2 separate regions of the Homo sapiens genome follow, and region 1 is linked to region 2. Evidence: fine-mapped expression QTL. A gene starts in region 2. The other region holds a variant in brackets. All regions are shown on one strand. Distances are between the middles of the regions. Region 1 has its middle 29 kb from the start of LINC00622. Region 2 holds the start of LINC00622 (long intergenic non-protein coding RNA 622).

The links. PIP is the estimated chance that this variant, and not a neighbour inherited with it, causes the effect.
Region 1: its variant is fine-mapped to the expression of LINC00622 in neutrophils (BLUEPRINT, PIP 0.95).

What each region holds. Positions count from the first base shown.
Region 1 is chr1:119,561,532-119,578,248 of GRCh38, forward strand. It overlaps the pseudogene HSD3BP4. Among named protein-coding and RNA genes, the nearest start is that of LINC00622, 29 kb to the right of the region's middle. The variant G/A (reference allele first, on the strand shown) is at 8,638.
Region 2 is chr1:119,589,400-119,606,116 of GRCh38, forward strand. It overlaps LINC00622 (long intergenic non-protein coding RNA 622), which reads right to left and starts at 9,892. Exons shown (of 1, transcript NR_036540.1): 1 at 8,303-9,892. It also overlaps the pseudogene GAPDHP33 and the pseudogene HSD3BP5. RefSeq lists an enhancer at 15,314-16,513.

The DNA of each region.
Region 1 (16,717 bases), 28 kb before region 2:
CTATCAGAGAACAAGCTGCTACATCTTGCAGCACAGGGCCAACCTTTTCTAGGCAAGTGGGTTTGAAGCATTGGTAGTCAGGTCCCAAGTAGCAGTTGAATGTTTTCAACATGGGAGGAGGGCAAGACCTAGAGTGGGGTTTCAAAGCAAATCATTTGTAGAATATTACTTCCAACAACTGCAGAAAGCATTCGTTTCAAGTGTTTATGGGATGTTCACCAACACAGACCATATGCTGCACCATAAAACAAGTCTCAATATATACACAAGGATCAAAATCATACAGAGTATATGCTATGGCCACAGTAGTATTTAATTAGAAATTCAAAACAATAAGATATCTAGAAGATTCCCAATTTCAGAAAACAAGCTACATACTCTGTTGGTATCGGTCACTTGGGTCAAAGACGAACTCACAAGAAAAAATTCAAAACATCATTAACTGAGTGATGATAACCCGATGCATCAAAATGTTGGCTGCAGCTGACACAGTGCTTAGAGAGAAACTTACAACTTTAAATGCCTGTAGTGGAAATGAGCAAAGGACTAAAGTCAATTATATATGCTTTTATAATAAGAACCCTGAAAAAAAGGAGTAAAACAACCCCCAAGTTAATAAACATAAGCTGATAATAAAAACAAAGAAAATCATGAAATAGAAAAATGAACAAACAATAGAGACAATCAATGGTCAATCCTTCTGTACTCCATGCACAAAAATTCATTTCAGAATGATTTTATATTTAAATATATATCCAGAACCACAGAGATCTTAGAAGAATAAATAAGAAAATATAGGGATAAAATAAGAATTCTGTGGGAATAAAAATCAGAAAGTAGTTGCCTACCAGGTAGATTGGGAGTAGGGCAGGGAATTAGCCAATAACAGGCAGAAAAGAACTGTCTGCAGTGACGAAAATGACCTATACATTTTTGGGTTGCTACTTACATGGACATATATAACTGTCAATGTTCATTGAACTGAACACTTGAGATCTGGGCATGTTAATGAATATAAATTACACCTCTTTTTTTAGATAGAGGAAAGTGTCTTGGAGAGCTTATGGTGGTGAAATTTGGGCAGTTCTCTGGCATAGGCTCAAGGAGCATTCACAACATCTTCAGTTCAGAAATTTGCTGAGAATGGTTTTGTACCCAAAAATATGGGAAAAGTTCAAACATCTATGATAAGAGTCATTGGGGCATACAACCACAAATCCCCACTCTTGTGGTACAGTGTTACAGGCCAAAAAGAATGAGGGTCGTGACCAACTCAGTATACCACTGGAGGCTATTTGAGCAAACAGAAAACTGTTCTCATGAAAGCAGGACGTTTTAAAACTGACAAACTATGTCTGCTGCCAGAAGGGGTGCTGAAGGCCGTCACACCCCCAGTGCAGTGTTCCTTGTGATTATCTATAGGAACCTCTGAAGCTGTTGTATAAAGAAAGCAATTATGTGTACCTGTGATAAATCAAGCAGCTGACCAACCATTATCTCTCCCTACCTGCTCTTTCTACCTCATAAATACAAAGGGCTTTAGAAGCTCAGAGCTGCCTTTGCTCACTAGAAGCAAGGAGCCCCCTGACCTCTTGTTTTAAAACATATCCTTTTGTCTTTGTCTTCCTTTCTACATTTGACCCCCTTCGTTCATGCCGTAGTAACTGACAGCAACAGTACAGGCCATATAATTAAGTGGCTATCACTAGACAGCCTTCCTTCAATGATGTTCTTCATCTAGGAACCCAGAGCTCTCCAGGGTAAAATGGCAACTGAGGTTTTGGATATATTGAGTGGGAAAGAAAGTCAACTCCATAAAACAGTAATTGGAGCTGTCACCATTACAAATTTCTAAACTTTGCAAGACTGCAGCAGCATTTCAAATGACACTCTGAGAGAGGAGAGAATGGGCTCATGTGGATTTCCCTCCAAACATATTTACTGCACAAAGGCAAAGTTCACATTACACTTGGAGATTTCTCTCAGTCTAGTTTAAGATCACAGATTGCAGATCCCAGACAACTGGAATCAACCAACTAGTGTCCTGTTAAGGCTAAACCTAAGACCCTTTACCACACTACAGCCTTACAATTGGACTTCTCTTCCTGTTCCTGGGAAGAATTAGAGATATACATTAAAGGTCACTTTTCTTCTGAGAAAAGGCATACTGGAAGAGACAGGAGCAATGAGTATGTGGCAGGAGTTCAAAGTGATAAGGGGAAAGCCAGGAGCCACAGAACATAGAACTCCAGGGCTACCTTAGGGGATGAAGTGACCAGCACTCTGACTCTTCTATCCAGCTTTTTAATAATCTAACAGTTGGAGTTTCTTTATTTTCTTTTAGCTACTTCTGGCAATGGTGAAGACATGGAATTTTTGCCAAAAAAAATGGGGTGGAGGAAAATAAAGCATTTGTGTGAGTATATAACCATTTGATCTCGTTTTCAGCCCTCTCCAGGGTCAATCTAGAATCAGATCTGCTCCCCAGCATCTTCTGTTTCCTGGCGAGTGTTTCCTGCAATATTGGATTGGCAATGACAGGCTGGAGCTGCCTTGTGACAGGAGCAGGAGGGTTTCTGGGTTAGAGGATCATCCGCCTCTTGGTGGAGGAGAAGGAGCTGAAGGAGATCAGGGCCTTGGACAAGGCCTTCAGACCAAAGCTGAGGGAGGAATTTTCTGGTAAGTAAACTTGATTCATGGATGTGTGGCTCCATTTTAAACCCTGCATGGGTGCAGGAAGGTGAACCTTTTCTAGCAAGTTACAGAAAGTTGTAGTCAAATCTAAGCCAATCCCACATTCACAATCATCATAAAAAGAATATTAAATAGTATAAATGGCATCATGTGAAAGACACTGGACGGGGTGTCCAGAGACTGGATTCTGGCCCTGACCCAGAACTTGAGAGGCAGCCACTTTGGACACCAGACCCCTTTACTTCTCATCTAGAAAATCCCACATCAGTTATTTTTCTTGTCTACAACGTTTTTATGTTCTGAAGCTTTTTGTCTTGGCAATTGCTTTGCAACATTTATAAAGGACACCATTTACCTGGAGACCTCACCAGTGGGTCCCTGCCTTTCTAGACTGCCCTGAGCTTTTTGTTTTGTAGCAACCTTGGCATCTTTAGTGAAGGCAAAATAAAAGGAAGTGAATGTATAGGAGAGTGTGTAAGTGTGTGTGTGTGCCAGAAAGCGAAACAGAGAGAGAAAATGAGGGGGGAGAGAAAATCAGAGAGAATGAGAAAGACAGAGAATGCATGAGAAAGAGTGAGAGAGAAAGAGAGCATCAGTGATAGAGAGAGCCCGTGCACAGGCACACAGCACAGAACAGAGATGGCAAGAGGCAGTATGAGGCCAGATATGCCTCATTTCGATTTTTCATATATGGCTTTATTTTTTAACCATTTGTCTCTGTTGCTCAATAGCCAAGAAATTGCAGAATTCGGTGTAGCAGATCCTTGTGCAAATAACCCCATGAGGAAGGTAGAAAAGGGGTTGCATCCAACTGAACAATGAACCATCAAAGTCCAGAAACATAAAGCAACTTGCCGAGACCATCTAATTAATGTGTAGCACAGCTCAGACCAGAGCTTCCTCCAGAGGCTTCCTCACTTGACTCTGGAGCTGATGCTTGGCAAAGTGGGTCTTCAGTCTCTCCCTTTGCCTCCCTGGGTGCCCAATTCCCTGTCCTCCTCCCCAACCCAGGGTACTGTGTGTCTACATGTGGGCTCTGGCTGTGTAGAGAGTCATGACCTGCCCTCAGAGAAGCCTCTACTTGATAGCACTCAGGGACCACACCCAACACACTGTTCCTCTTTTGCTCTTCTCTGACCTCTTCCGATTTCCTCCACCCTCTGTTTTAATGGTGTCTTTCATAAACAAATATTAACACAAAACAAGATTAAATGTTTGTAATCCTTATGTGTCACCAGTATTTACAATCTAACACGTAATACCAGAAAAAAGCAATTCTCAGCCTAGAGGAATTGTTCCTTATGGTGAAAAGGCAGGGAATATAATGGATAGGCAGTGGCCTGTATGAAGATAAAAACAAAGAATCCTTTCAGTGTTCTTTCTGTGCCAGGCACTGTGCTACATGTTTTGCATGTGCTGACTCATTTGTTACTCATAGCAACCCTATGAGATTGTTAATATTATTATCCTCCTTTCTTACAGATCAGGAGACAGACACAGAGAGGTTAATTAACTCACCGAAGGTCCCAGAGTTAGAATATTGCAAAGCTGGATTTGAACCCAGACAGTCTAGTGCAGCATCTGTGCTCTTAAGCAGTAGTTAGTCTAGCAGCTTGAGGAAGGAGGGAACTATGGCTCCACCACAAAGTCCCTTTTCCTGGTCTCTCTAGATCCCTGTGAACTCATTGAGGAAAAGCCTTTTCTCTTGGCTTTAGACTTCTTCTGCTTTGAAATGGCAATTCCTTTCTGCCAGCCTGTCTGAAGTTGGCAGCAAAGGGGAAGCAGAGGAAGGGAGCAGGAAGTGCAGAGGTGGAAATACAACCAGAGAAAATTCCACTCTCAGGCTGTTACCCGCATCCTCCCCAGCAGCCTCTTCCCTGCCTCCCCAAACTGCAGGGCCTCCTTGGAGGTGCCTGGCAATAGGAAGGGGCTGGGAGTAGACAAAACATGGCAAAGGCATTAGGAGAGTAAATGGTCCTGTCTGAACCCCTGGAAGGAATTGCTCCGGTCTTGAATTTTTCGCTCTGAATTTTACTCTCACTGTTCTTTGGCCTTTGTTGCCAATTTCAGTTGACCTGGTTTATTCTTACTCTTTCTCAGAAAAGTTTATTCTAAACAGCTAGGCCTGTACCCGGTGTACAGAGTACAACACTTAGAGGTGGGGTGGGCAAGTTTGAGTCTCCACTAGAAACGTGACCTTAGATCTGTCCCTTAACCTCTCTGATCCTCAGTTTCCTCACAATAAAGTGGGACTCAGAAAACCTGTCTCATGAGATTGTTGTAAAATGAAATAAGCAAGCTGTGAGTCATATGCAGATTATAAAGCACAAACAAGTGTAGAGTATTTATCCAAGCTCCAGGTACCACGGTTTTCATTGCGTGGGCTAATTCCAGGTGACAACTTTACTGTCCGCGTAATGTCTTGTGGATTTCAGAGGAGCGTGAAGACATTAAAGTTGTAACCACTGCCCTTGGCTAGACAGCTGGAATATCAGTTCATTGGTCACTAACTTTCAGCATTGCTATCTGCTTTTGATATCTGATAAGAGTTTTTCATGGACATTCCTCATTTATGCCCATCCACAGTTCCCTAGTAATGGCTCCACTCTCCTCCCAATTTCCCAAGCAGGAAACCATAGGGGTGATTTTGTCTTCTTTTTCTCTCAGCCCAGATCCAATAGGTACCAGGACCTTCAAGGTAAGGTCTGAAATTCAAACCTGTTTTATCTCTCCCCTGCTCTGCTTCCACTGCTGGACCCTGCTTCCAGTCCTCATCGAAACTTTGGCACAGATACTCTGATTAATATCTTAATTACCTTACTTTCTCATATCCCCTATACCAGTCCATTTTATATCCTCAAGCCAATGTTGACTTCCTACTTCACAATTCTGCTTCTGTTTCTCTCTCTCTTTTTTTTTTTTTTTTTTTTGAAACAAGGTTTGGCTATGCCACCAAGGCTGGCATGCAAAGGCATGATCTCTGCTCACTGCCACCTTCACCTCCTGGGCCCCATTCATCCTCCTGCTTCAGCCTTCCAAGCAGCCAGGACTATGGGCATGCACCAATACGCCTGGCTAATTTTTGTATTTTTAGTAGAGATGGGGTTTCATGAGGTTGTCCAGGCTGATCTTGACCTCCTGGGTGCAAGCAATCTGCCCACCTCAGCCTCCCAAAATGATGGAATTACAGGTGTGAGCCACCATGCTCTGCCTGTTTCTCTACTTATTCCAAATATAAATAAGGGGTTTCTCTGATATGGTGCTGGAGACCCAAAATCATGATCCCGCATCACCAGCAGAATTAAATTCAAATTTTCCCTCTTATACCCAACTCTCCACAATCACTCTACTCCTTTTAAAAATTTTGATGGGCTTTCCATGACCCTAGCAGTGCTTATATTCCAAGCACACCTGACAGCTCATTGCTCAGATTACATTTCTGAAATGAGATGGGGTAGAAACAGATGTTTGCTCTTTCCCAATAAATTGCTACACATTCTGACTTCTGTGTCTCTGTTTATTTGTTCCTTCCATGGAATGTACACCCTCCACTCCAACACCCTGACTCTAGCCATCCTCAAACACCTATGCAACAACATCTTTATCAGGAAACTTCCAAGCCAGTTTCAGAAACCATTCCGATAACCTGTCCCGTGTTCACACAGAGCTCCAGAACAAGACCAAGCTGACAGTGCTGGAAGGAGACATTCTGGATGAGCCATTCCTGAAGAGAGCCTGCCAGGACATGTCGGTCATCATCCACACTGCCTCTATCATATATGTCATCGGTGTCACTCACAGAGTCCATCATGAATGTCAATGTGAAAGGTACAGTAGCCTGGGGAGGAGATGAAGCAAGGTGGGGAATTAAGGATCACAAAGAAGGACAGGAAGGGAAAAGAAGTCTCTCCACTGAACACCTGCTATGCTCTGGACCAAGTGTCTTTGCTGATCACTACCAACTGGGGGAGTTCAAAGCTGCTATCTTCAGTTTTTTACATGAGGAAACCAGTGCTACAGATGGCAAGTAACTTGTCCAAGGCCCCCCAGGTAAGTAAGTAAGTAGGAGAATTAGACTTTAAACTCACCCCTGTGTGACTCCAAAGGCTGTGGACACTCTATTGTGGCTCCAGTCAAAAGTCAACTAAACTCCAACTTCAGACTCTTGATATTCAGCCACTCTTTGCCTCTATGGGACAGAATCAAACCTTCCAGGTGCCACCATAGTCATCATTTTAAACCTTGTGTGTAGGCTTATAATAATGAAATGGGAAAAATTCCCTCACCCCCCTCACCAAGCATGCAATGGGGGTGTGGCTTGCTTCTTCAGTGCCTCACTGCTGAAACCTCTATGGGAGCATACAGGCAGGCAGGCTGTGGGACTCCGACACCATGGCAGTGTCTGGGGTGAATTGTACAGCTCCTGAAGCCCCAGTGGGTGTGTGTTACATGGTGCTCTTTTAGTCTTGCTCTTTTAGTTTTGACATCTATAGGCGGCTTGTTTTAACCAGCTAAATTAGACCCTCTACCTTGTTGGAAGGTCAGAGGGCTTTCTGTATCCTGGGTTCTTGCTTTGGTTACCGGAAGAATTGGATCACACCTGGGCTTGGAGAATGAGTACAAGGTTATTTTGAGTGGAGGTAGCTCTCAGCAGCTGGGGGATGCCAGAAGGGGAGGGTTTTCCCCTGGAGTCGGTTGCTCAATGACCCAACTCTTCTCCAACCACCCCAGACAAACTCCACATCATTTTGCCCATGGGTATGTTCCTCCCAAAGTCCAGCTGCCCGTGTATTCCTTTGCTGATGTGTTCCTCTGCTGATGTGTGCCTCCACTGATGTGCCCTTCCTGACATCCAGCCCCTTCTGTCTTCTTCTGCCAATCTGCTCCTCTCAATGTCCAGCAGCTTGTGCATGTGCCTGCTAGGGTATTGGGGGGTTTTATAGGCAGAGAATGGGAGCATGGCAGGCCAGGGTGGTCTTGGGAAATGCAACATTTGGGCAGAAAATGCTTGTCCTCATCTAGGTCCCTGAGGGTGCAGCCCTAGCCAGAAACCACACCCTCCTTCACCCAGCACTTCCCTTCCCCGCTCTCATATCATTTAAAGGGACCACACTCTTCCCTTCCCAGCACTCCCATATCAAGAACATTCAAAGCCCTCCTGCCCACCTCAAAGAAGTTCTCTTGAGAGAACTAGCAAAGCTGGTTCTCAGAGGTCTGTCAGGACAGAATTATCCAGCACATGCTTTCTCACAATATTTTCTTAACAAAAAGAGTTTCCCAGTATGCAGAATATGATCTCTTCAGCTCACCAAAGGGCCTGCTATTACAGAACCATTTCAAACTAGGTGCCCAAAGTGCACCTTCATTCAATCCTCGTCCCTTAAAAGCTTGGTGGTCTTTCCGAATTGCAGCTTCCCAAACTACTTTAAATTCAGACACATTCCCTTAAGGAATCTCGTCATGCAGTCTCACCCTCTGATTCCCAGAGTCCAGTCTCTTCAGCACCATAGCACCCAACCACAGGCCTGGCCCTCCACATTCAGTCTACTCTGATGCCTTTTCTCATGCAACTAATTGCTTTTGAGTCTCCAGTACCAAAAAAAAAAGAGAAGAAAGAAAGAAAGAAAGAAAGAAAGAAAGAAAGAAAGAAAGAAAGAAAGAAAGAAGAAAGAGAAAGAAAGGAAAGAAGGAAGGAAGGAAAGAAGGAAGGAAGGAAGGAAGAAAGAAAGAAAGAAAGAGAGGAAGGAAGGAAACAGAAAGAAAAAAACCTTTCCAGTTTCTACTCGCTCATTTCTTTCAGTACCCCTACAGTGCAAGGAGGGTGTTAAGAGTAACCAGTTTTTCATTTGAATTGTTAACTCTCCGCAGCTCCCAACAACAAGAAATGTGAAATGACAGGGGAAGTGTTAGAGGCATCTGTTTCCTAACCATTATCACTCCAAG[G/A]CTTAGAAAATATTTCACAATGTTGGTCATTTCCCCCTTGAAGGTAAACTACTTCCGCATTTTCTCTGCCACCAGATTAATTGTTGAAAACATGAGGCTGTCTCTCCAGAAACTCAAATTCCACAGAGACTTTAAACAGGGCCAAGAATAAAAAAATAAGAAAAAATAATAATCCTTTGCCTAGGAAATTCCTTCCTTCTTCAAGGGAAGGCACTCCGAACACCTCCATGAGCTTCGCTTCCACACAGCTCAGGGGAGGCGGCAAGGTCCTCCCAGTACAGGTGTTACCAGCAGAGGGCACACTCCTCTCCCCAGTCCTCCACCAGGCTCCACAGGAAACGCCAGGGCAGGGTTTAAAGGAAGGTTTATCACCCCGACTTTACATAACCAGGTAAACAGAGTCACAGCCAGAATTGGAAGCAGCTTTCCCAGGGAATGCACAATCAGGAAAAGAGTGTGGGTTTCCAGCATCTCCCCACAAGCCACTGTTCGCTCAATGACTCCAGGAATGGTCCTGGTGACAAAGTTTTACCAGTCCACTCAAAATGAGAAAAATACCAGCAATTATATGTATATTTAAGAGTACATTTCAGAGTGTATATTGCTTATATACAATTGTGTATGGGTGTGTGTGTGACATAAATTCTTCCAGTGCCCTTTTCTGCCTAAGGACTGGGACTGTCCATATTCTCAGAGTATATCTTCCTGATTTGTTAGTTTTTCAATAATCTGCCATTAATGGTATTGATGTCACATTGTAATTTTTCAACATCATTACTTGACAGAATATAAAGTGATAATTCTAGGTCCTTTGCCAAAATTACAGTATATACACACACACACACAGACACACACATCCATATACCCAAAAGTCTAGAAATTCTTGCTCCCCAGAACCCACATGTCAGTTTCTTTTCATTTTGGTGTTTTTCCTATGGCTGTAGCATGGCCCAGTCTCAGTCAGAGTCACATAAGAATATACCCCGAGTCTGTTATAACCACTGCACTTGGGAATAAATATCTATGCACGTTGTTGGGGCCCCTTAGTTATATTTCCTGACACTGACAGAATGCTTTTCGTAGGTAGGTACCCAGCTTCTGTTGGAGGCCTGTGTCCAAGCTACAGTGCCAATCTTCATCTACACCAGTACCCTAGAGGTAGCCAGGCCCAATTCCTACAAGGAAATCATTCAGAACGGTCATGAAGAAGAGCCTCTGGAAAACACATGGTACGCTCCATACCCACACAGCAAAAAGCTTGCTGAGAAGGCTGTGCTGGCGGCTAATGGGCTGACTCTGAAAAACGGTGGCACCTTGTACACTTGTGCCGTAAGACCAATGTTTATCTATGGGGAAGGAAGCCCAATCCTTTCTGCCGGTATAAATGAGGCCCTAAACAACCATGGAATCCTGTCAAGTTTCAGCAAGTTCTCCAGAGTCAACCCAGTCTATGTTGGCAACATAGCCTGGGCCCACATTCTGGCCTTGAGGGCCCTGCGGGAGCCCAAGAAGGCCCCAAGTGTCCGAGGACAGTTCTACTATATCTCAGATGACACGCCTCACCAAAGCTATGATAACCTTAGTTACACCTTGAGCAAAGAGTTCGGCCTCTGCCTTGATTCCAGTTGGAGCCTGCCTTTATCCCTGACGTACTGGATTGGCTTCCTGCTGGAAATAGTGAGCTTCCTGCCGAGGCCAGTTTACACCTGTCGACCGCCCTTCAACCACCACAGAGTGACATTGTCAAATAGCGTGTTCACCTTCTCTTACAAGAAGGCTCAGCAAGATCTGGCATATAAGTCACTTTACAGCTGGGAGGAAGCCAAGCAGAAAACCATGGAGTGGGTTGGTTCCCTTGTGGACTGGCACAAGGAGACCCTGAAGTCCAAGACTCAGTGATCGAAGGATGACAGAGATGTGCATGTGGGTATTGTTAGGAGATGTCGTCAAGCTCCATCCTCCTGGCTTCATACAGGTGACAAGGGCAAAAGTCCAGGTCCTGCTGCCTCCCTTTCACATAATAGCCAACTTATTGTCTTCCTCATGTCATCAAAACCTGCCCAGTCCCTGGCCCAACCAGAAGCTTTTTGTCCTAATCATATACCAGAGGAAAGACAATGTGATTTGCTTTTTCCATATCTCAGTGGCTGATTCCGAACAATTGTAGTCTCTTCTAACTTGAGGTCATTTTTAACTACTAGAGCTCCATTTCTACTCTTAAATGAGAAAGGATTTCTTTTCTTTTAAATCTCCTATTTCTTCACGCAGTCCAATGTAAAGAGCAATAAATGTTTTAATCCTTAACCTGGAGGGAGGTGTAGTTTCTGTTAATACCTAGTTCCCTCCTTTTCTTTTCATTTCCAGGTATCACCATCTTTTACCTAGGAGAGTAGCATGGAGCTGGGGAAGGGGGGTTGGCAGAGTAGTGGGAGGATCTGGAAGGGCGATGAAGACTGAATAAGCTCTACTATGTTTCAGGCATCTACAACATGACCTACATGTGACATATATTCCCTCACTCAATACTTATCAGAAACCTATCACGTGGGGGTGACTATTCCCATTTTACCCTTAAGGAAACTTGTTCACCATCACACTAATGATTAGTGGCTAGGCCTGCTACCAGGAAGTTGGTCTTGAAAGACTTTATCTTTCCCTAGAATCATGCAGCCTGAACTGGTCTTATCAGTGGTACAGCAGAGCACTGGAGCATGGGATGCTGATACTTGGGAGAGCCCCAGCTTTTTGGGGTTACCTCTTTCTTGCCCAATCTGGTACAGGGGAATCTCTAGAACCAAGGATAATCCCTGAGGGGCATCTGAAAGGGTTTGCATGCCTTTCCTAATGGGCCTGAGCAGGGCAGAGAGAAACAAAAATGCATCAGGCCTCCACCCGCTTCAGTGTCAATTTATTTGAAGGTCTCTAGAACACTCCTGGCTATATGTGTGTTGGCCATTCTGATCATACATAACCCTGCATTTCACCCTTTCAAATCACACAATGAGCCACACCATGGGTTCCTGGACAAGTACAAAAAACAAGTGTGAACTTCCTCCAAAATATACCTTCTACTCAGCCCAAAATTAGAAGTCTACTATCCCACATCCCCAGATTTAACTGTCTCTCTCTTCTTTCTCCTTCTCTTCTCTAAATCATATCCTTTCTTCCTTTATTCTTCCATATCCTTAGCCTCTTTCTTCTCTCCATCTCCTCTTTAATCACTGGTTCTCTCATTCTTCTCAATTTCCCTGAAGAGAGGAGGCCAATCAAGACAAGTTTGGGGACTTCAGTGATGACATAGTCATTAACCAATCAATGAAAACACACTCAAAAGAAACACTGTCAGGGGCATCAGGGACAGAGTTGAACTGAAGCAGGTGAGGAGGTTGCTATGGGTCCAGAGTGTGGGGTGGAAGCTGTCTCCCTCTGGACCTTTGTGTATCACAGCCATGATGAGAGTCACACCCAACATCAAGATGGCTTTTTTCTTACACAGGAAATTAACAGATCATTACTCAGTTGAATTTGATTACCACAATGGAGTTAGTTTCAGTGTTCATTCTGAAGAGAAAAGGGAACCACATTCTGGCCCAGATGAACAGGTTACCACCATCTTCAAAAGCCCAAGGAACAGATGATCATCACCAGCGTCAGGGGGGAGTGGCCCCAGGCAGTGGGGTAAGGTGAAAAATGCAACACCCAGTGGTCACTTCCAAGATGGCCGAATAGGAACAGCTCCGATCTGCAGCTCTCAGAGAGATTGATGCCGAAGATGGGTGATTTCTGCATTTCCAACTGAGGTACCTGGTTCATCTCATTGGGACTGGTTGGACTGTGGGTGCAGCCCACAGAGGGCGAGCTGAAGCAGAGTGGGGCATTGCCTCATCCAGGAAGCACAAGGGGTTGGGGGATTTCCCTTTCCTGCCAAGGGAAGCTGTGACAGGCTTGCCTGGAGAAAAGGTACACTCCTGACCAAATACTGTGCTTTTTCCACAGTCTTAGCAACCAGCAGACCAGGAGATAACCTCCTTTGCCTGGCTCAGTGGGTCCCACGCCCAGGGAGCCTTGCTCACTGCTACTGCAGCAGTCTGAGATAGACTGGCAATGCTGTAGCTTGATGGGGGGGAGGGGCGTCTGCCATTGCTGAGGCTTGAGTAGCTCACAGTGTAAAGAAAGAGGCTGGGAAGCATGAACTAGGTGGAACCCACTGCAGCTTAGCAAGGCCTACTGCCTCTATAGCTTCCACCTCTGAGGGAAGGACACAGTAGAACAAAAGGCAGCAGACAGCTTCTGCAGACTTAAATGTCCCTGTCTGACAGCTCTGAAGAGAGCAGTGGTTCTCTCAGCACGGCATTCCAGATCCGAGAACAGACAGACTGCCTCTTCTAGCAGGTCCATGACCCCCATGTAGCCTGACTGGAAAACACCTCCCAGTAGGGGCTGACAGACACCTTAAACAGGTGGGTGCCCCTCTGGGACAAAGCTTCCAGAAGAAGGATCAGGTGGCAATACTTGCTGCTCTGCAGCCTCCACTATTGATACCCAGCCAAACAGGGTCTGGAGTGGATATCCAGCAAACTCCAACAGACCTGCAGCTGAGGGGTCTGACTGTTAGAAGGAAAACTAACAAACAGAAAGGAAGAGCATCAACATCAAAAAAAAGGACGTCCACACCAAAACCCCATCCATAGGTCACAGTCATCAACATCAAAGACCAAAGGTAGATAAAATCACAAAGATGGGGAGAAACCAGAGCAGAAAAGCTGAAAATTCCAAAAAAGAGTGCCTCTTCTCCTCCAAAGGATCGCAGCTCCTCACCAGCAAGGGAACAAAACTGGACGGAGAATGACTTTGAGGAGTTGACAGAAGCAGGCGTCAGACCTTCGGTAATAACAAACTTCTCCGCGCTAAAGGAGCATGTTCTAACCCATTGCAAGGAAGCTAAAAGCCTTGAAAAAAGGTTAGACGAATTGCTAACTAGAATAAACAGTGTAGAGAAGACATTAAATGACCTGATGGAGCTCAAAACCACAGCACGAGAACTTTGTGACACATGCATAAGATTCAACAGCTGATTCAATCAAGTGGAAGAAAGGGTATCAGTGATTGAAGATCAAACTAATGAAATAAAGTGAGAAGACAAGATTAGAGAAAAAAGAGTGAAAAGAAATGAACGAAGCCTCCAAGAAATATGGCACTATATGCAAAGACCAAATCTACATTTGTTTGGTGCACCTGAAAGTGACAGGGAGAATGGAACCAAGTTAGAAAACACTCTTGAGGATATTATTCAGGAGAACTTCCCCAACCTAGCAAGGCGGGAAAACATTCAAATTCAGGAAATACAGAGAACACCACAAAGATACTCCTCGAGAAGGGCAACCCCAAGACACATAATTGCCAGATTCACCAAGGTTGAAATGAAGGAAAAAATGTTAAGGGCAGCCAGAGAGAAAGGTTCAGTTACCCACAAAGGGAAGACCATCAGACTAACAGCGGATCTCTCGGCAGAAAACCTGCAGGCCAGAAGAGAGTGGGGGCCAATATTCGACATTCTTAAAGAAAAGAATTTTCAACCCAGAAACTCATATTCAGCCAAACTAAGCTTCATAAGTGAAGGAGAAATAAAATCCTTTAGAGACAAACAAATGCTGAGAGATTTTGTCACCACCAGGCCTGCCTTACAAGGCTCCTGAAGGAAGCACTAAACATGGAAAGGAACAACCACTGCAAAACCAGCCACGGCAAAAACATGCCAAATGGTAAAGACCATCGACGCTATGAAGAAACTGCATCAATTAATGGGCAAAATAATCAGCTAACATCATAATGACAGGATCAAATTCAAACATAATAATAACCTTAAATGTAAATGGCCTAAATGCCCCAATTAAAAGACACAGACTGGCAAATTGGATAAAGAATCAAGACCCATCAGTGTGCTGTATTCAGGATACCCATCTCACGTGCAAAGACACACACAGGCTCAAAATAAAGGGATGGAGGAAGATCTACCAAGCAAATAGTAAGCAAAAAAAAAGCAGGGAATGCAATCTCCTAGTCTCTGATAAAACAGACTTTAAACCAACAAAAATCAAAAAAGACAAAGAAGGCCACTACATAATGGTAAGGGATCAGTTCGCCAAGAAGAGCTAACTATCTTAAATAAATATGCACCTAATACAGGAGCACCCAGATTCATAAAGCAAGTCCTTAGAGACCTACAAAACAGACTTAGATTCCCACACAATAATAATGGGACATTTTAATACCCCACTGTCAATATTAGACAGATCAGTGAGACAGAAGATTAACAAGGATATCCAGGACTTGAACTCAGCTCTGCACCAAGCAGACCTAATAGACATCTACAGAACTCTACACTCCAAATCAGCAGAATATACATTCTTCTCAGCACCACATCACACTTATTCTAAAATTGACCACATAATTGGAAGTAAAACACTCCTCAGCAAATGTAAAAGAACAGAAATCACAACAAACTGTCTCTCAGACCACAGTGCAAACAAATTAGAACTCAGGATTAAGAAACTCACTCAAAACTGCACAACTACATGGAAACTGAACAACCTGCTCCTGAATGACTACTGGGTAAATAACGAAATGAAGGCAGAAATAAAAATCTTCTTTGAAACCAATGAAAACAAAGACACAATGTACCAGAATCTCTGGGACACATTTAAAACAGTGTGTAGAGGGAAATTTATAGCACTAAATGCCCACAAGAGAAAGCAGGAAATATCTTAAGTCGACACCCTAACATCACAATTAAAAGAACTAGAGAAGCAAGAGCAAACAAATTCAAAAGCTAGCAGAAGACAAGAAATAACTAAGATCAGAGCAGAACTGAAGAAGATAGAGACACAAAAAAACTTTCAAAAAAATCAATGAAGGCCGGGCGCGGTGGCTCATGCCTGTAATCCCAGCACTTTGGGAGGCCGAGGCAGGCGGAACACGAGGTCAGGAGATTGAGACCATCCCGGCTAAAACGGTGAAACCCCGTCTCTACTAAAAATACAAAAAATTAGCCGGGCGTAGTGGCGGGCGCCTGTAGTCCCAGCTACTTGGGAGGCTGAGGCAGGAGAATGGCGTGAACCCGGGAGGCGGAGCTTGCAGTGAGCCGAGATCCCGCCACTGCACTCCAGCCTGGGCGACAGAGCGAGACTCCGTCTCAAAAAAAAAAAAAAAAAAAAAAAATCAATGAATCCAAGAGCTGTTTTTTTGAAAAGATCAACAAAAAAGATAGACTACTAGGAAAACTAATAAAAAAGAAAAGAGAGAAGAATCAAATAGATGCAATAAAAAATGATAAAGGGGATATCACCACCGATCCCACAGAAATACAAACTACCATCAGAGAATATTATAAACACTTCTATGCAAATAAACTAGAAAATCTAGAAGAAATGGATAAATTCCTAGACACATACATCTTCCCAAGACTAAACCAGGAAGAAGTTGAATCTCTGAATAGACCAATAACAGGTTCTGAAATTGAGGCAATAATTAATAGGCTAGCAACCAAAAAAAGTCCAGGACCAGATGGATTCACAGCCGAATTCTACTAGAGGTACAGAGGAGCTGGTACCATTCCTTCTGAAACTATTTCAATCAAAAGAAAAAGAGGGAACCCTCCCTAACTCATTTTATGAGGCTAGCATCATCCTGATACCAAAGCCTGGTAGAGACACAACAAAAAAATAGAATTTTAGGCCAATATCCCTGATGAACATCAATGTGAAAATCCTCAGTAAAATACTGGCAAACCGAATGCAGCAGCACATTAAAAAGCTTACCCACCATGATCAAGTAGGCTTCATCCCTGGGATGCAAGGCTGGTTCAACATACACAAATCAATATTCGTAATCCATCACATAAACAGAACCAACAACAAAAACCACATGATTATCTCAATAGATGCAGAAAAGGCCTGTGACAAAATTCAACAGCCCTTCATGCTAAAAACTCTCAATAAACTAGGTATTGATGGAACATATCTCAAAATAATAAGAGCTATTTCTGACAAACCTGCAGCCAATATCGTACTGAATGGGCCAA
Region 2 (16,717 bases):
CAGTGCAGGTTCACTTTTGCCCAGATTAACCCCCAGAGTCAAGGGCTGGGTCAAGGAAACATTTGCATGGAACACTCCAAAAGAGAAACAGTCCCATAGCAGTCTCCCTGGTAATAACTTTTCAGACCTATTTGCTTAACCAAAATATACATATAGTGCCTTCACCACCCAAATATTTAGAAAGGGAAAATGAAGTATCGTCATATAGCTCTGCTTGCCTATAACTGCAATTCAGATCCCAAAATTAAAAAGAAGTGAACACCCAACCTTTCAAAACAGCAGTCCCTTTAAATAAAATAGTTCGGGCCGGGCACAGTGGCTCATACCTGTAATCCCAGCACTTTGGGAGACCGAGGCGGGCAGATCACAAGGTCAGGAGATCGAGACCATCCTGTGAATGGTGAAAACCTGTCTCTACTAAAAATACAAAAAATTAGCCAGGCATGGTGGCGGGTGCCTGTAGTCCCAGCCACTCAGGAGACTGAGGTGGGAGAATGGCATGAACCCAGGAGGAGGAGCTTGCAGTGAGCTGAGATTGCGCCACTGCACTCCAGCCCAGGTGACAGAGTGAGACTCAGTCTCAAAAAAATAATAATAATAAAATAAAATAAAATAAAAATAGTTCGTTAATTGTATGACTCAAAGAATTCCCATTGATTCTTCTCAGAACAAAAGATCTTAATAGGGCAGATCAGTAACGACTGAAACAGCCAGTAGCTTATAATTTTTTGCACATACTGTCCAAAACTATGGAACTTTGCACTCTGGACAGAAGAGCTATACCTATAAAAATTTCCCAACAGAAATCATACTCTCTATCTATGAAACAGTGCAGCAAAGTTAAATCAGTTGAAAGGAAAAAAACCACGTGTCATTAGAATACTTGGAAGAGTAGTGGATACTTTGGAGAATTGTGGTCATTGAAGAGAAGCACAGAAGGTTAAATCGGATGAAATTTTATTGGGTTGGTAAAAAGAAAAGGGAAATTGACCATGCTCCCAGAGTGAGGCCTTAACTTTTTATTTAGGTGTCAAATTGGCTGCTGCACTGGTGGGCTGATAATTTGAGGCCAAGGAGGGGCCTTTAATCCAGCAGCAAGGATGGAGTGCTTGTGCTGAAAGTTTAGGGAAATACTAAGAAAGCACATGTCTAGGGGTGACTGTCTGGCTGACACAGCAGTCACAGTTGCATTGTGGAACAGGATGCCTAGATGACCACAGGCCTTGAAGATTACTTTCAACACCCTGATTTGAGTGACTTGTAAAAAATGGAAGTGTCATGATTTAGTCTATTTGTGCTAGTACAACAAAATATATCAGATTAGAAAATGTACAAACAACAGAAACTTATTTCTCATGTTCCAGATGCCAGGAAGTGCATGATCAATGTGTCTGCAGGTTCCATGTCTGGTGGGAGCTCAGTGTCTCCTTCCAAGACAGCATCTTGTTGCTGCATTGCCTGTGTCCTCATGTGGCAGAAGAATGGAAAGGGTCAGCTAGTTTCCTCAAGCCCTTTTATGAGGTCACTAATCCCATTCACAAGGGCCCTGTCCTCATATACCAATCACTTCCTAAAGGCCCCAATTCTGAACACTATCACATTGGCAATTAAGTTTCAACATATGAATTTGGAAGGAACACATTCAGACCATACAATTTCACAAGATCAAGAAGGAATACAGGACAAAGGTGAATTTGGTATAGCCTAACTCATGCACTGCTGCAAGGGACTTTGGGAATATTTTTTACTTTGAGTCAGAGGGCAAAAACCAGAGACAAGAAAGAACAGAGGAGCAAAGGAAAGCCTAAAATATTCATTGTCATGACCTAGGATGTTACAGGATTTTGTGGCACACGGACTGATGTCTATTCTGTGCAATTCACTGACCTCCAAGAAAAGTAGCAGAAAGAGAGTTTTCAGATAAGAGTTTCAGGGACCCTGGAAACAAGTTAATATTAACTAGCCCAGTTCTTCACCAGGAAATGAGAAAGGAGATATCTTTATTTTGGTCATATTGGATAGTTTTAGTAGATACTTGGAGACTTTCTCAATAAAGTACTACAGAGCTAAATGAATGACAGTGATTAATGTCTAAGAAATTGTCTCTTACTCAGGGGTCTTCAAGAACACGGCCTCAGACAGTGGGCAGACTCATGAGACAGCTGTCCCACCAGGCACATCCCACAGCAAATGACCAAATCTAGGCAGACTTTGCTCTCCTCTGGCCTGTTCCCCAACCCTAATAGCCTTGTCATCCATCAAGAGTCAGCCTCATGGACAGTGGGACTTGGTATGCTTTCTTGAAGTGTACTCTCTGGAATTTCACTTCCAGATCGTAGAACTGTTCTGTAGATACCACCTTTCTCAGCCCCCTTCTATTTGTGTTAAGTTTATAATTGTAGTCTCATGATTCTCCTCACATCAGAAAAAGATAAGAACATTTTAGTGCTAAATTGTTCCTTGTGGATAAGTAAATAAATAAATAAATCCTTGAAGGTAAGACTTGAAATCAGAGAAAACATAAGATCCAAACACCCAATCACGGTCTTGTAAATCAATTTTTTTTCATGCTTTTATGCTGGTTAGTGATCAAGTTGCAAAATTTCCCAAAGTTGCCTTTATCACAGGCACTTCAATGCAAGCGTAGTGGCCAGCTTAAGGTCATCTCTTCGACCCTGAAATCACCAGCTGAAGACTTGTGGGAGTCAATAGAGATTGGTTTGGGGTAAGAGTAAAACAAATCACATGAGCATATGGTATTAAAGCAATTTGGTATACAGACAACGACATTAGCTTACTTTACAAGAAAAGGTAGTAGAAGCTCTCTTTGTATGCATCTACCTGGTGATAACTGTGCTCCTGGACACAAATGTGTGTAATTTTTTAAGTTGCATCTGGCTCAGGGGCTACATCAAAAATTCCAAGGGAAATGAGCAAGAATCTTATCAAGATACTACCAAAAGGCTGTTCTCCATTGCTTAGAAATATGGGAAAAGGAATGTCCACAGTAAACTGAAGAGATGCATACGAAATCTCAGAAGGAATCTCTTAACTCCTAAAAATGTCTTACACGTGGAATGCAATCTGATACAAATATAGGCAACAGACATGAACAGACACCCACCAAATAAGATATATAAATTATAAGAAAGCGTATGAAAAGATACTCAACATCATATGTCATTAGAGAATTGCAACCTAACACAAAAATGAGATACCACTGCACACCCATTAGAATGGTGAAAATCCTTAACACTGACAACTAATGCTAGCAAGAATGTGGAGCATCAGGAATGCTCATCCATTGCTGGTGGGGATGCAAAATGGTACCGACACTTGTAAGGCAGTTTGACAGTTTCTTATAAAACTAAACATATTCTTACCATATAATCCAGCAATTATGCTTCACTGTATTTACACAAATAAATTGGAAACTTACATCCACACAAAAACCTACTTCTAGGTTAGATCTTTATAGCAGTTTTATTCATGATTATCAAAACCTGGAAGCAGCCAATTTGTCCTTCAATAGTTCAATGGATAATGAAATATTATTCAGTGCTAAAAGAAAAAAAAGTGCTATCAAGCCATGAAAAGACATGGAGGAAGCTTAAATGTATATTACTAAATGCAAGAAGTCGACATGAACAGGCTACATACAGTGTGATTCCAACTATCTGACCCTGTCAGAGTCAGGGTGCACAGAGGGATTGACAGACAGAAGCAGATTTTTAGGGCAGATGACACTAAAATGGTGGTTATATATCAGAATACATTGGTCAAAACTAAGAATGTGCAAGACCAAGAGTAAACTGTGAACTTTGAGTGATAAAGATGTGTCAATGCAGATCAATGATTGTAATAAATGTACCATGTGGTGCAGAATGGTGATAGATGGGGAGTCTGTGTATGTGTGGGAGTGGGAGTATATGAGAACTGTCTGCACTTGCCCTCAACTTTGTTGTGAAGCTAAAACTATCATAGAAAATAAAGTCCATTTTAAAAACTAAATGAGATAACATACGTAAAGCACCTGATACATAGTAAAGGGCTCAATTAATATATTAGAGCTCATATGCAGAGCTTTCTTTGTGCAAGGAGATGTGCCATATGACATCTTGGTCTGATTTCAACTGATTATTCCTTAAAATAAATATCTGGAGTGGACTCGTATGGATGGGTCAAGTGTGTGAAAATTTAAAATATTTTGTCAGATACTCACCAGAAATTTGCATAAACTTACACTTCCACGGATAACACACCTGTCTCCCCACATCTTCACCAACACTTAGTAACTTCAGTGAATCTAATATTTGCTAAACCACTTGTGGTTTTCAAACTGAGTTTAATGAAGGGCTAATGTTCTTTGTAATGCAAGAGAAATCCCCAAGAAAAGAAAGCAGCTTGTTAAAAATATGTCAGTCTACCTATTTTCTTCTTAAACATTGGAGTTCCAAGAGCTCTTGACTTGACTGGCACAAAGTTCCAGTTTCATCTGAGGACTCAACTGGGGAAATATCTACTTTCAAGCTCACTTTCATAGTTGTTGGAAAATTCACTTCCTCGAAGCATATTGGACTGGGAACCTCAGTTCCCCTTTGACTGTTGGCTGCCCTCAGTTCATTACTATATTGTCCTGTCCAGCATGGCAGGTTGCTTCATCCAGCCCAATGAGAAAGAGGAAGTGTAAAACAAGATGGAAGTCACAATCTTTTCTAACCTAATCATGGAAGTAATATTCCATCATTTTGGTCCAATTATACTGATTAAAAGCAAGTTACTAGGTTCAGCACACACACAAGGGAATGAATACCAGGAAGCAGAGATCACTGGATTCAACTTAGAGGCTGGCTACCATACCATCATTGTCAGACTCCAGAGGAAATGGTTGAGTGACATCTATGTGATCTCCCCCAAAAATAACTGACAAACAGAATTCAGTAAGAAATAAAAAAGACATTTTGCTAAAGCCTCCTCCTTTCTCACTTTGAAGGTCTTGCCTGGAAAGACAGCCAAGTTGAGCTCATATAACCCAAAAGCTCTGGCCCTAGTTCTCCCTGTATGGTGGAGGGGATGGCCCATTGTTCTTTACTTCTGAAAACTGGCTCTTCAAGTACACTTCAAATACCTAGGATCCTACTCATATCCGTGCTATAGATGAGAAGAAAATTGCTTCTCCTTGGCAAACAGCTTTGGCCTGGGCAATGATTCCAGCCTCTCATTACTATGGGAAACTTTCTAGTATTTTCATTTTTGTGGTCACTGTTCTCTTCTATTTCCTTCTTTGTATTAGTCTATAAGCACTAACTTTCAGAAGCACTAAGACATTCTAGAGTCTTGATTGTTCACTCATCCTTCCATTTCTTTATTCAATAAGCATGTATTAAGTTCCTATGATGTGTCAGATGTTGTGCAAATTCTTATGGTAATAAAACGATGTATGAGACATAAACACTTTATTTAGTCAAACACTCAACAATGTTTGAACATTTGCTCTGTACAAGGTGCTAAGGATCAATAAAGGAGTAGTCCAGTTTAAGACAACACAACAAAAACAAACTCTTCACTCCACTGGCTGTAACACCTTTTTACTGAGATCTTCATGGCACAACTTCTTGAACAGGTGTTGTTTTTAAGAGTCGCTCTCTTCACATTTTTCTTCTATTCCTCAACACACAAATGAATTGTGTGTTGGACTTTCCAGTTGAACTTTCAACCCAACTATTTGTGGAAATTGCTCTTACCAAATTACTTACAATGTTGCCAAAATCAATAATCAATTATTTTCCTATTGCATTTGATCAGCAGCATCCAACATAGTGAACCAAACTCTTCTTGAAACACTTTCTTCAACTTGACTTTTACAAGGCCATCTCCTTGTAATTTTTCTCCCTCCTGCCACCAACTCCTACTCAGCATATTTAGCTGGCCCCTCCTTCTCTGTTCAACTTGTAAATATTGATATGTGTATTCCAGGATTCAGTCCGGAAACTTTCCCTATTATCCATGAATATTCTTATAACTTATTTCGTCTAGTCATGTGCCTTTAAAACTTATTCTATGCTACTCATGACCTCTCTAGGACTCAAGCACAAGGGGTGTAATTATCCTAAAATAAGCCAGGAGTTTAGTAAGCTGGCCAAGAAGAGGGATTTTCCTTTTCCCAGCATGAGAGACTGTGCCTAGTACAGCTCCCTGCAAAATGGGTGGCTTTCTCCCCTAAAAAAAGGGAAACCCTTTGCATGAGCCCCAAGGACTCTAGATGCTAGGCAGGTGATTTTTCCAGACAATCTTGTGAACATCTGGAACCTAAATCTAGACTGTTTCACACCAACAGCCTGTGTGTTCCTCCACTGATAAAGCTGTATCCTTGTGCTCACATGATAAAAAATTATAACAAGGGAGACTATTGTTCCTACACTGGAATGCAGACTCCCATTGTGAGCCCAGCATTTCCTGACCATTTATGCATCAGTATTAAATAGGAGGATGGAGAAATCATGCTGTCTATTTTTTTGCTGATCAGTAATCTTTGTGAGCTTTCCTAATACCGCTTTTTTTTTTCTGAGCATAGACAGGGGACTTTATTGGTGGTACACGACAAGGTGGGGTTCCCTAGGCCCCTCCCTCTTCAGGGGGTCTGCATGGAAACTGCATGGAGGGGAGAATCTCAGTGTGGTGGGGGACTGAGTGTGGCAGGGACTCCCCAGCAGCTGAGGGCCTCTCTTTTCCTCTCATGCTCTCGCGGGGCTGGTGGCCCAGAGGTCTTACTCCTTGGAGGCTATGTGAGCCATGAGGTTCACCATCCTGTTGCTGTACCCAAATTCATTATCATATGAGAAAATGAGCTTAACAAAGTGGTCACTGAGGGCAATGCCAGTCCCAGGATTGAAGGTGGAAGAGTGGGTGTCAATGGTTAAGCTGGAGGAGGCAACCTGGTTCTCAGTGTTGCACAGGATGCCCTTATGGGGGCCTTCTGATGCTGCTTCACCACCTGCTTGATGTTATCATATTTGGCATGCTTTTCCTGAGGGCAGGTCAGGTTCATGACCAACATGTTCGTGGTGGGGACCTGGAATGCCATGCTAGTGATCTTCCCATGCAGCTCATTGATATACTTGCCCACAGCCTTGAGAGTGCCAGTAGATGCAAGGATGATGTTCCTTTGAGCCCTGCAGCTGTCATGCCACAGTTTCACAGAGGGGCCGTCCACAGTCTTCTGGGTGGCAATCATAGCATTTACTGTGGTCATGAGTCCTTCCACTAAATCGGAGTTGTCATGGATGATCTTGGCCAGAGATGCTAAGCAGTTGGTGGTACAAGAAACACTGTTGATGATCTTGAGGCTGTTGTTATATTTCTCATGGTTCATACCCATCACAAACATGGGGCTGTCAGCAGAGGGGTTAGAGATGATGATCCATTTAACTGGCCCCTACAAATGAGCCACACACTTCTCCATGGTAGTGAAGACGACACTGGAGTCTATGATGTACTTGGTGCCAGCATTGTCCTATTTGATTTTGGTGGGATTTAGCTTTTGGAAGATCGTGGTGGGATTTCCATTGATGACAAGCTTCCTGTTCTCAGCCTTTACGGTGCCATGGAATTCACCACGGGTGGAATCATACTGGAATACATAGACCATGTAGTATGGAATTTGTAGACTATGAAGGGGTCATTGATGGTGACAATATCCACTTTACCAGTTATAAGTAGCCTTGGTAACCAGGCAACCAATGGGGCCAAATCCATTGACTCTGGCCTTCACCCTTACCATGGTGTCTCAGGGATGCGGCTGGCGCTGCACAAGAAGATGCGGCTATCTGTCGAATGGGAGGAGCAGAAAGCTACAGCATATTATTTAACCCATAGTTATCATATTGAGAAATTCTTCACACACTCTGATGTCAATAGGTGGTGACTCGGGTGGGCACCACTTGACATAGCAGGCTGACATTCCCTGAGCATGTGGACAATTCAGTTGTCTCAGTGTCACTTGTTTAAAAGACAATCTTTTTCCCTATTGAATTTGCTATTGTCAAAATCAATTGGCCATATGAATTTAGGCCATTAACCCACACATAGGCAAAACTTCCCTCAAAATAAAATAAAGGCCTAAATTTAAGGGCTAAACTATACACCTCTTAGAAGAAAACATAGATTATTATATTCATGATCTTGAATTAGGCAAAAACCCAACTTTTCCTGGTTAAAAAATAGTTGAAAAATGAAACAGGATCAAAACTAAAAATGTTGGCATTTAAAAGCCACCAATAAGAAAATGAAGAGATAAACCAGAGACTGAGAAAAAAAATTCAAATCATATATTTAATACAGGACTCATATCCAGAATATGAAATACACTTACAACTACGCAACAAAAAGATAAATAACCCAATTTTAAAATAGGCAAAATATTTGAATAACCATTTCATCAAAAAGGTGTAGGAATAGACAATAAAATACATGAAAAGATGGTCAGCATCATCAGTCAGCAGGGACATGCAAATCAAAACTACAGTGAGACACCACTTCTTACCCACTAGAATGCTATAATAAAAAAGGACAGTAACACCTGGGGGAAGTGAAATAATGACGTGGAAAAACTAAAACACTCACGCATTGTTGATGGGACATGCAGTCACGTTGGAAACCAGTTTGGCAGTATCTTAAAATGTTGAAGATATATTTACCATATGACCTAGCACTATCACTTCTAGCTATCTACCCAGAAGAAAAAAACCTATGTCCACACAACACATGAATGTGAATATTCATAGCAACTTTATCCATAATTGTCCATAAAGTAGAAACACTCAAATATGTATCAACTGATAAATGAATAAACTAATGGGAGCTATCCATACAATTTAATAGGATTTGTCCCCTAACAGGATTAAAATATTGATATGTGCTGCCACATACATGAACCATAAAAGTATATTAAAGTAAATGAAAGAAGACAGATACAAAAGACCACATATTGCATGATTTCATTTATATGGTCTCCAGAAAAGGCAAATCTGTAGAGTCAGAAAGTCAATTAGAGGTTGCCTGGAGCTGGGGACTGGGAAAAAGTGGTGGTGACTGATGAACATAGGGGATTTCTTAGGAATGATAGAAATGTTGCAAAACAGGATCATGGTGATGGTCACACAAGTCTAAAATTTTACTGAAAATAATTTAACTGCACACTTAAAACAAGCGAATGTTATGTCAATTATACCTCAGTAAAGCTGTTTAAAAACAAAAGAAATTTAGTAGTGTGGCCCCCATCAGTCTTGCCCTTTGTTTAATTTCTCACTTTCTTTAGGGCTTTTATTTATCGGTTCCACTCAGAGACTCCAAGAGACACTGGCTGAAATCTATCAGCCTCCAGAACTCTCAACAGCATAGGGAATGTCTGGCCCCATCCGAAAGGTGATGGGATCTGTAAGGTGCACTCTAGCATGTGCTATAGCAGGCAAAGGTGTGTGATGCACCTGGGTGGTTCAGATAGTGCTCCACATGTCTCAGCAAGACCCAGGGCCTGTAGCTATCGGAGAACAAGCTGCTACATCTTGCAGCACAGGGCCAACCTTTTCTAGGCAAGTGGGTTTGAAGCATTGGTAGTCAGGTCCCAAGTAGCAGTTGAATGTTTTCAACATGGGAGGAGGGCAAGACCTAGAGTGGGGTTTCAAAGCAAATCATTTGTAGAATATTACTTCCAACAACTGCAGAAAGCATTCGTTTCAAGTGTTTATGGGATGTTCACCAACACAGACCTTTTGCTGCACCATAAAACAAGTCTCAATATATACACAAGGATCAAAATCATACAGAGTATATGCTATGGCCACAGTAGTATTTAATTAGAAATTCAAAACAATAAGATATCTAGAAGATTCCCAATTTCAGAAAACAAGCTACATACTCTGTTGGTATCGGTCACTTGGGTCAAAGACGAACTCACAAGAAAAAATTCAAAACATCATTAACTGAGTGATGATAACCCGATGCATCAAAATGTTGGCTGCAGCTGACACAGTGCTTAGAGAGAAACTTACAACTTTAAATGCCTGTAGTGGAAATGAGCAAAGGACTAAAGTCAATTATATATGCTTTTATAATAAGAACCCTGAAAAAAAGGAGTAAAACAACCCCCAAGTTAATAAACATAAGCTGATAATAAAAACAAAGAAAATCATGAAATAGAAAAATGAACAAACAATAGAGACAATCAATGGTCAATCCTTCTGTACTCCATGAACAAAACTTCAGTTCAGAATGATTTTATATTTAAATATATATCCAGAACCACAGAGATCTTAGAAGAATAAATTAAGAAAATATAGGAATAAAATGAAAATTCTGTGGGAATAAAAATCAGAAAGTAGCTGCCTACCAGGGTAAATTGGGGGCAGGGGAGGGAATTAACTAAGAACAGGCAGAAAAGAACTTTCTGCAGTGAAGGAAATGACCAATACATTTTTTGGGTGCTACTTACATGGGCATACATAACTGTCAAGGTTCATCAAACTAAACACGAGCTCTGGGCATTTTAGTGAATATAAATTACACCTGATTACACCTGGATTTTTTTTTTTTTTCTTTTTTGAGACGGAGTCTCACTGTGTCGCCCAGGCTGGAGTGCAGTGGCGCAATCTCAGCTCACTGCAAGCTCCGCCTCCAGGGTTCACGCCATTCTCCTGCCTCAGCCTCCTGAGTAGCTGGGACTACAGGCGCCCACCACCAGGCCCAGCTAAGTTTTTGTATTTTTAGTAGAGATGGGGTTTCACCGTGTTAGCCAGGGTGGTGTTGATCTCCTGAATTCATGATCTGCCTGCCTCGGCCTCCCAAAGTGCTGGGATTACAGGCATGAGCCACTGCGCCTGGCCTCGATTTTTTTAAGTAGAGGAAAGTATCTTGGAGAGCTTATGGTGGTGAAATTTGGGCAGTTCTCAGGTATACGCTCAAGGAGCATTCACAGCATCTTCAGAAATTTGCTGAGAATGGTTTTGTACCCAAAAATATGGGAAAAGTTCAAACATCTATGATAAGAGTCATTGGAGCATACAACCACAAATCCCCACTCCTGTGGTACAGGCCATATCATTAAATGGTTAACACTAGATAGCTTTCCTTCAATGGTGTTCTTCATCTAGGAACCCAGAGCTCTCTGGGGGAAAATTGCAATTGAGGTTTTGGATATATTGAATAGGTAAGTAAGTCACCTCCGTAAAACTTAGTGATTGGAGCTGTCACCATTGCAAATTTCTAAACTTTGCAAGACAGCAGCAACATTTCAAATGACACTCAGAGAGAGGAGATAACGAGCTAATGTGGATTTCCTTCCAAACATATTTACTGCACAAAAGCAAAGTTCACATTACACTTGGAGATTTCTCTCAGCCTAGTTTAAGATCACAGATTGCGGATCCCCGATATCTGGTATCAACTGACCAGTGTCCTGTTAAGGCTAAACCTAAGACTCTTTACTGCATTGCTGCCTTAGAATTGGACTTCTCTTCCTGTTCCTGGGAAGAATTAGAGATATAGACTAAAGGTCACTATTCTTCTGAGAAAAGGGATGCTGGAGGAGGCAGGAGAAATGAGTATGTGGCAGGAGTTCAAGGGGATAAGGGGCAAGTCAGAAGCCACGGAGCATAAAGGCCCAGGGCTCCCTTAGGGGATGAAGTGACAAGCACCCTGACTCTTTTGTCCAGCTTTAACAATCTAACAGTAAGAGCTTCTTCATTTTCTTTCAGCTACTCCTGGCAATGGTGGAGACATGGAATTTTTGCAAAAAAAATGGGGTAGAGGAAAATAAGACATCTGTGTGAGTATATAACCATTTGATCTCTTTTTTTAGCCCTCTCCAGGGTCACCCTAGAATCAGATCTGCTCCCCAGCATCTTCTGTTTCCTGGAGTGTGTTGTCTGCTACTTTGGATTGGCCATGACAGGCTGGAGCTGCCTTGTGACAGGAGCAGGAGGGTTTCTGGGTTAGAGTATCATCCGCCTCTTGGTGGAGGAGAAGGAGCTGAAGGAGATCAGGGCCTTGGACAAGGCCTTCAGACCGGAATTGAGGAAGGAATTTTCTGGTAAGTAAACTTGATTCATGGGTGTGTGGTTCCATTTTAGACACTGCATGGGTGCAGGAAGGTGGACCTTTTCTAGCAAGTTACAGAGAACAGTAGTCAAATCTAAGCCAATCTCACATCGATAGTCTTAAAAAAAAAGAAAGAAAAGAAAATTAAATAGTATAAAATGGCATAGTGTGAAAGATTCTGGATGGGCTATCCAGAGACTGGATTCTGTCCCTGACCCAGAACTTGAGAGGCAACCACTTTGGACACCAGCCCCCTTTTCTTCTCATCTAGAAAATCCCACATCAGTTATTTTTCTTGTCTGCAACTATTTTAAGTTCTGAAGCTTTTTGTCTCGGCAATTGCTTTGCAACATTCACAAAGGACACCATTTACCTGAAGACCTCACCAGTGGGTCCCTGCCTCTCTAGACTTCCCTGAGCTTTGTTTTGTTTTGTAGCAACCTTGGCACCTTTGGTGAAGGCAAAATAAAAGGAAGTGAAGTTATAGATGAGTGTGTAAGTGTGTGTGTTTGTGTGTGTGAGAGAGAGAGAGCAAAAGAGAGAGAAAATGAGGGGGAGAGAAAATCAGAGAGAGAGAATGAGAAAGAGAAAGAATGCATGAGAAAGAGTGAGAGAGAGAGGGAGAGGATAGGAGAAAGAGACAGCATCAGTGAGAGAGAGAGAGCATGCACAAGTGCACAGCACAGAGCAGAGACAGAGTAAGAGGCAGTATAAGGCCGGATATCCCTCTTTTCGATTTTTCATTTATGGCTTTATTTTTTAACCATTTGCTTCTGTTGCTCAATACCCCCAAGAAATTGCAGAATTTGCTGTAGCAACTTCTTGTGCAAATAACTCCATGAGGAAAGTAGAAAAGGAGTCATATCCAACTGGACAATGAACTATCAAGATCCAGAAACATAAAACAACTTGCTAAGACCATCTGGTTAATGTGTAGCAGACCTCAGACCAGAGCTTCATCCAGAAGCATCATCACTTTACTCTGGAGCTGATCCTTGGCAAAGTGGGTCTTCAGTCTCTCCCTTTGCCTCTCTGGGTGCCCAATTCCCTGTCCTCCTCCCCAACCCAGGGGGTGGGTGAACTGTGTGTCTACACCTGGGCTCTGGCTGTGCAAAGAGTCATGCCCTGCCCTCAGAGAAGCCCCTACTTGACAGCACTCAGGGACCACCACACCCAAAATTCTGCTCTTCTTTTGCTCTTTTCTGACCTCTTCCAATTTCCTCCACCCTCTGTTTTAATGGTGTCTTTCATAAACAAATACTAACACAAGACCAAGATGAAATGTTTGTAATCCTTATGTGTCACCAATATTTGCAATCTAACACCTAATACCAGAAAAAAAGCAACGCTCAGCCTAGAGGAATAGTTCTCCTATGGTGAAAAGGTAGGGGATATAATGGATGGGCAGTAGCCTGTATAAAGATAAAAACAGAGAATCCTTTCAGTGTTCTTTCTGTGCCAGGCACTGTGCTACATGTTTTGCATGTGCTGACTCATTTGTTACTCATAGCAACCCTATGAGATTGTTAATATTATTATCCTCCTTTCTCACAGATTAGGAGACAGACATAGAGAGGTTAATTAACTCGTTGAAAGTCTCAGAGTTAGAATATGGCAAAGCTGGATTTGAACCCAGACAGTCTAGTGCGGCATCTGTGCTCTTAAGCAGTAGTTCACCTAGCAGCTTGGGGAATGAGGGAGCTATGGCTCCATCCACAAAGTCCCCTTTCCTGGTCTCTAGATCCCTGTGAACTCATTAAGGAAAAGCCTTTTCTCTTGGCTTTAGACTTCTTCAGCTTTGAAATGGCAATTCCTTTGAGCCAGTCTGTCTGAAGTTGGCAGCAAAGGGGAAGCAGAGGAAGGGAGCAGGAAGTGCAGAGGTGGAAATACAACCAGAGAAAATTCCACTCTCAGGCTGTCACCCATGTCCTCCCCAGCAGCCTCTTCCCTGCCTCCCCCATAGCATGGCCTTCTTGGAGTTGCCTGGCAATAGGAAGGGGCTGGGAGTAGACAAAACATGGCAGAGGCATTAGGAGAGGAAGTGGTCCCGCCTGTATCCCAGGAAGGAATTGCTCCGGTCTTGAATTTTTCGCTCTGAATTTTACTCTCACTGTTCTTTGGCCTTTGTTGCCAATTTCAGTTGAACTGGCTTATTCTTACTCTTTCTCAGAAAAGTTTATTCTAAACAGCCAGTCCTGTACCTGGTGTGCAGGGTACGAGGCTTGGAGGTGGAGTGGGCAAGTTTGAGCCTCTACTAGAAACGCGACCTTTGATCTGTCCCTTAACCTCTCTGAACCTCAGTTTCCTCACCAGTAAAGTGGGACTCAGAAAACCTATCTCATGAGATTGCTGTAAAAGGAAATAAGCAAGCTGTGAGTCATATGCAGATTATAAAGCACAAACAAGTGTAGTGTATTTATCCAAGCTTCATGTACCACAGTGTTCATTGCGTGGGCTAATTCCAGGTGACAACTTTACTGGCAGCATCACTTCTTGTGGATTTCAGAGGAGCGTGAAGACATTAAAGTTTTAACCACTGCCCTCAGCTAGACAGCTGGAATATCAGTTCATTGGTCGCTAACTTTCAGCATTGCTATCTGCTTTTCAAATCTGATGAGTTTTTCATGGAAATTCCTCATTTAAGCCCATCAGCAATTCCCTAGTAATGGCTCCACTCTCCTCCCAATTGCCCAAGGAGGAAACCATAGGGGTGATTTTGTCTTCTTTTTCTCTCAGCCCAGATCCAGTAGGTATCAGGACCTTCAAGGTAAGGTCTGAAATTCAAACCTGTTTTATCTCTCCCCTGCTCTGCTTCCACTGCTGGACCCTGCTTCCAGTCCTCATCGAAACTTTGGCACAGATACTCTGATTAATATCTTAATTACCTTACTTTCTCATATCCCCTATACCAGTCCATTTTATATCCTCAAGCCAATGTTGACTTCCTACATTACAATTCTGCTTCTGTTTCTCTGTCTCTCTTTTTTTATTAACAGGGTTTGGCTGTGCCACCAAGGCTGGAGTGCAGAGGTATGATCTCTGCTCACTGCCACCTTCACCTCCTGGGCCCCATTCATCCTCCTGCTTCAGCCTCCCGAACAGCTGGGACTATGGGCAAGCACCACTACGCCTGGCTAATTTTTGTGTTTTTAGTAGAGACGGGGTTTCACGAGGCTGTCCAGGCTGGTCTTGACCTCCTGGGTGCAAGCAATCTGCCCACCTCAGCCTCCCAAAGTGCTGGAATTACAGGTGTCAGCCACCATGCTCTGCCTGTTTCTCTACTTATTCCAAATATAAATAAGGGATTTTCTTTGACATGGTGCTGGAGACCCAAAATCATGATCCCGCATCACCAGCAGAATTAAATTCAAATTTTCCCTCTTATACCCAACTCTCCACAGTCACCTTACTCTCTTTAAATATTTTAGTGAGTCTCCCATGACTCTAGAAATGCTTATATTCCAAGCACACCTGACAGCTCATTGCTCAGATTACTTTTCTTAAATGAGATGGGGTAGAAACAGATGTTTGCTCTTTCCCAATAAATTGCTACATATTCTGACTTCTGTGTCCCTGTTTACTTGTTCCTTCCATGGAATGTACACCCTCCACTCCAACACCCTGACTCTAGCCATCCTCGAACATCTATGTAACAACATCTTTATCAGTTTCAGAAATCGTTTCAGAAATCGTTCTGATAACCTGACCGGTGTTCACACAGAGCTCCAGAACAAGACCAAGCTGACGGTGCTGGAAGGAGACATTCTGGATGAGTCATGCCTGAAGAGAGCCTGCCAGGACATGTCGGTCATCATCCACACCACCTCCATCATAGACATCATCGGTGTCACTCACAGAGAGTCCATCATGAACATCAATGTGAAACGTACAGTAGCCTGGGGAGGAGATGAAGCAAGGTGGGGAATTAAGGATCACAAAGAAGGACAGGAAGGGAAAAGAAGTCTCTCCACTGAACACCTGCTATGCTCTGGACCAAGTGTCTTTGCTGATCACTACCAACTGGGGGAGTTCAAAGCTGCTATCTTCAGTTTTTTACATGAGGAAACCAGTGCTACAGATGGCAAGTAACTTGTCCAAGGCCCCCCCAGGTAAGTAAGTAAATAGGAGAGTTAGACTTTAAACTCACCCCTGTGTGACTCCAAAGGCTGTGGACACTCTTTCTATAGTGGCTTCAATCAAAAGTCAACTAAATTCCAACTTCAGACTCTTGATATCCCTCTATGGGACAGAATCAAACCTTCCAGGTGCCACCATAGTCATCATTGTGCTACACACAAGTCACCTTGTGCGTAGGCTTATGATAATGAAATGGGAAAAATTCCCTCATCCCCCTCACCAGGCATGCAATGAGGGTGTGGCTTGCTTCTTCAATGCCTCACTGCTCAAACCTCTGTGGGAGCATAGAGACAGGCAGGCTGTGGGACTCCGACACCATAGCAGTGTCTGGGGTGAATGTTTACAGCTCCTGAAGCCTCAGTGGGTGTGTGTTACATGGTGCTCTTTTAGTCTTGCTCTTTTAGTTTTGACATCTACAGGCGGCTTGTTTTAACCAGCTAAATTAGACCCTCTACCTTGTCGGAAGGTCAGAGGGCTTTCTGTATCC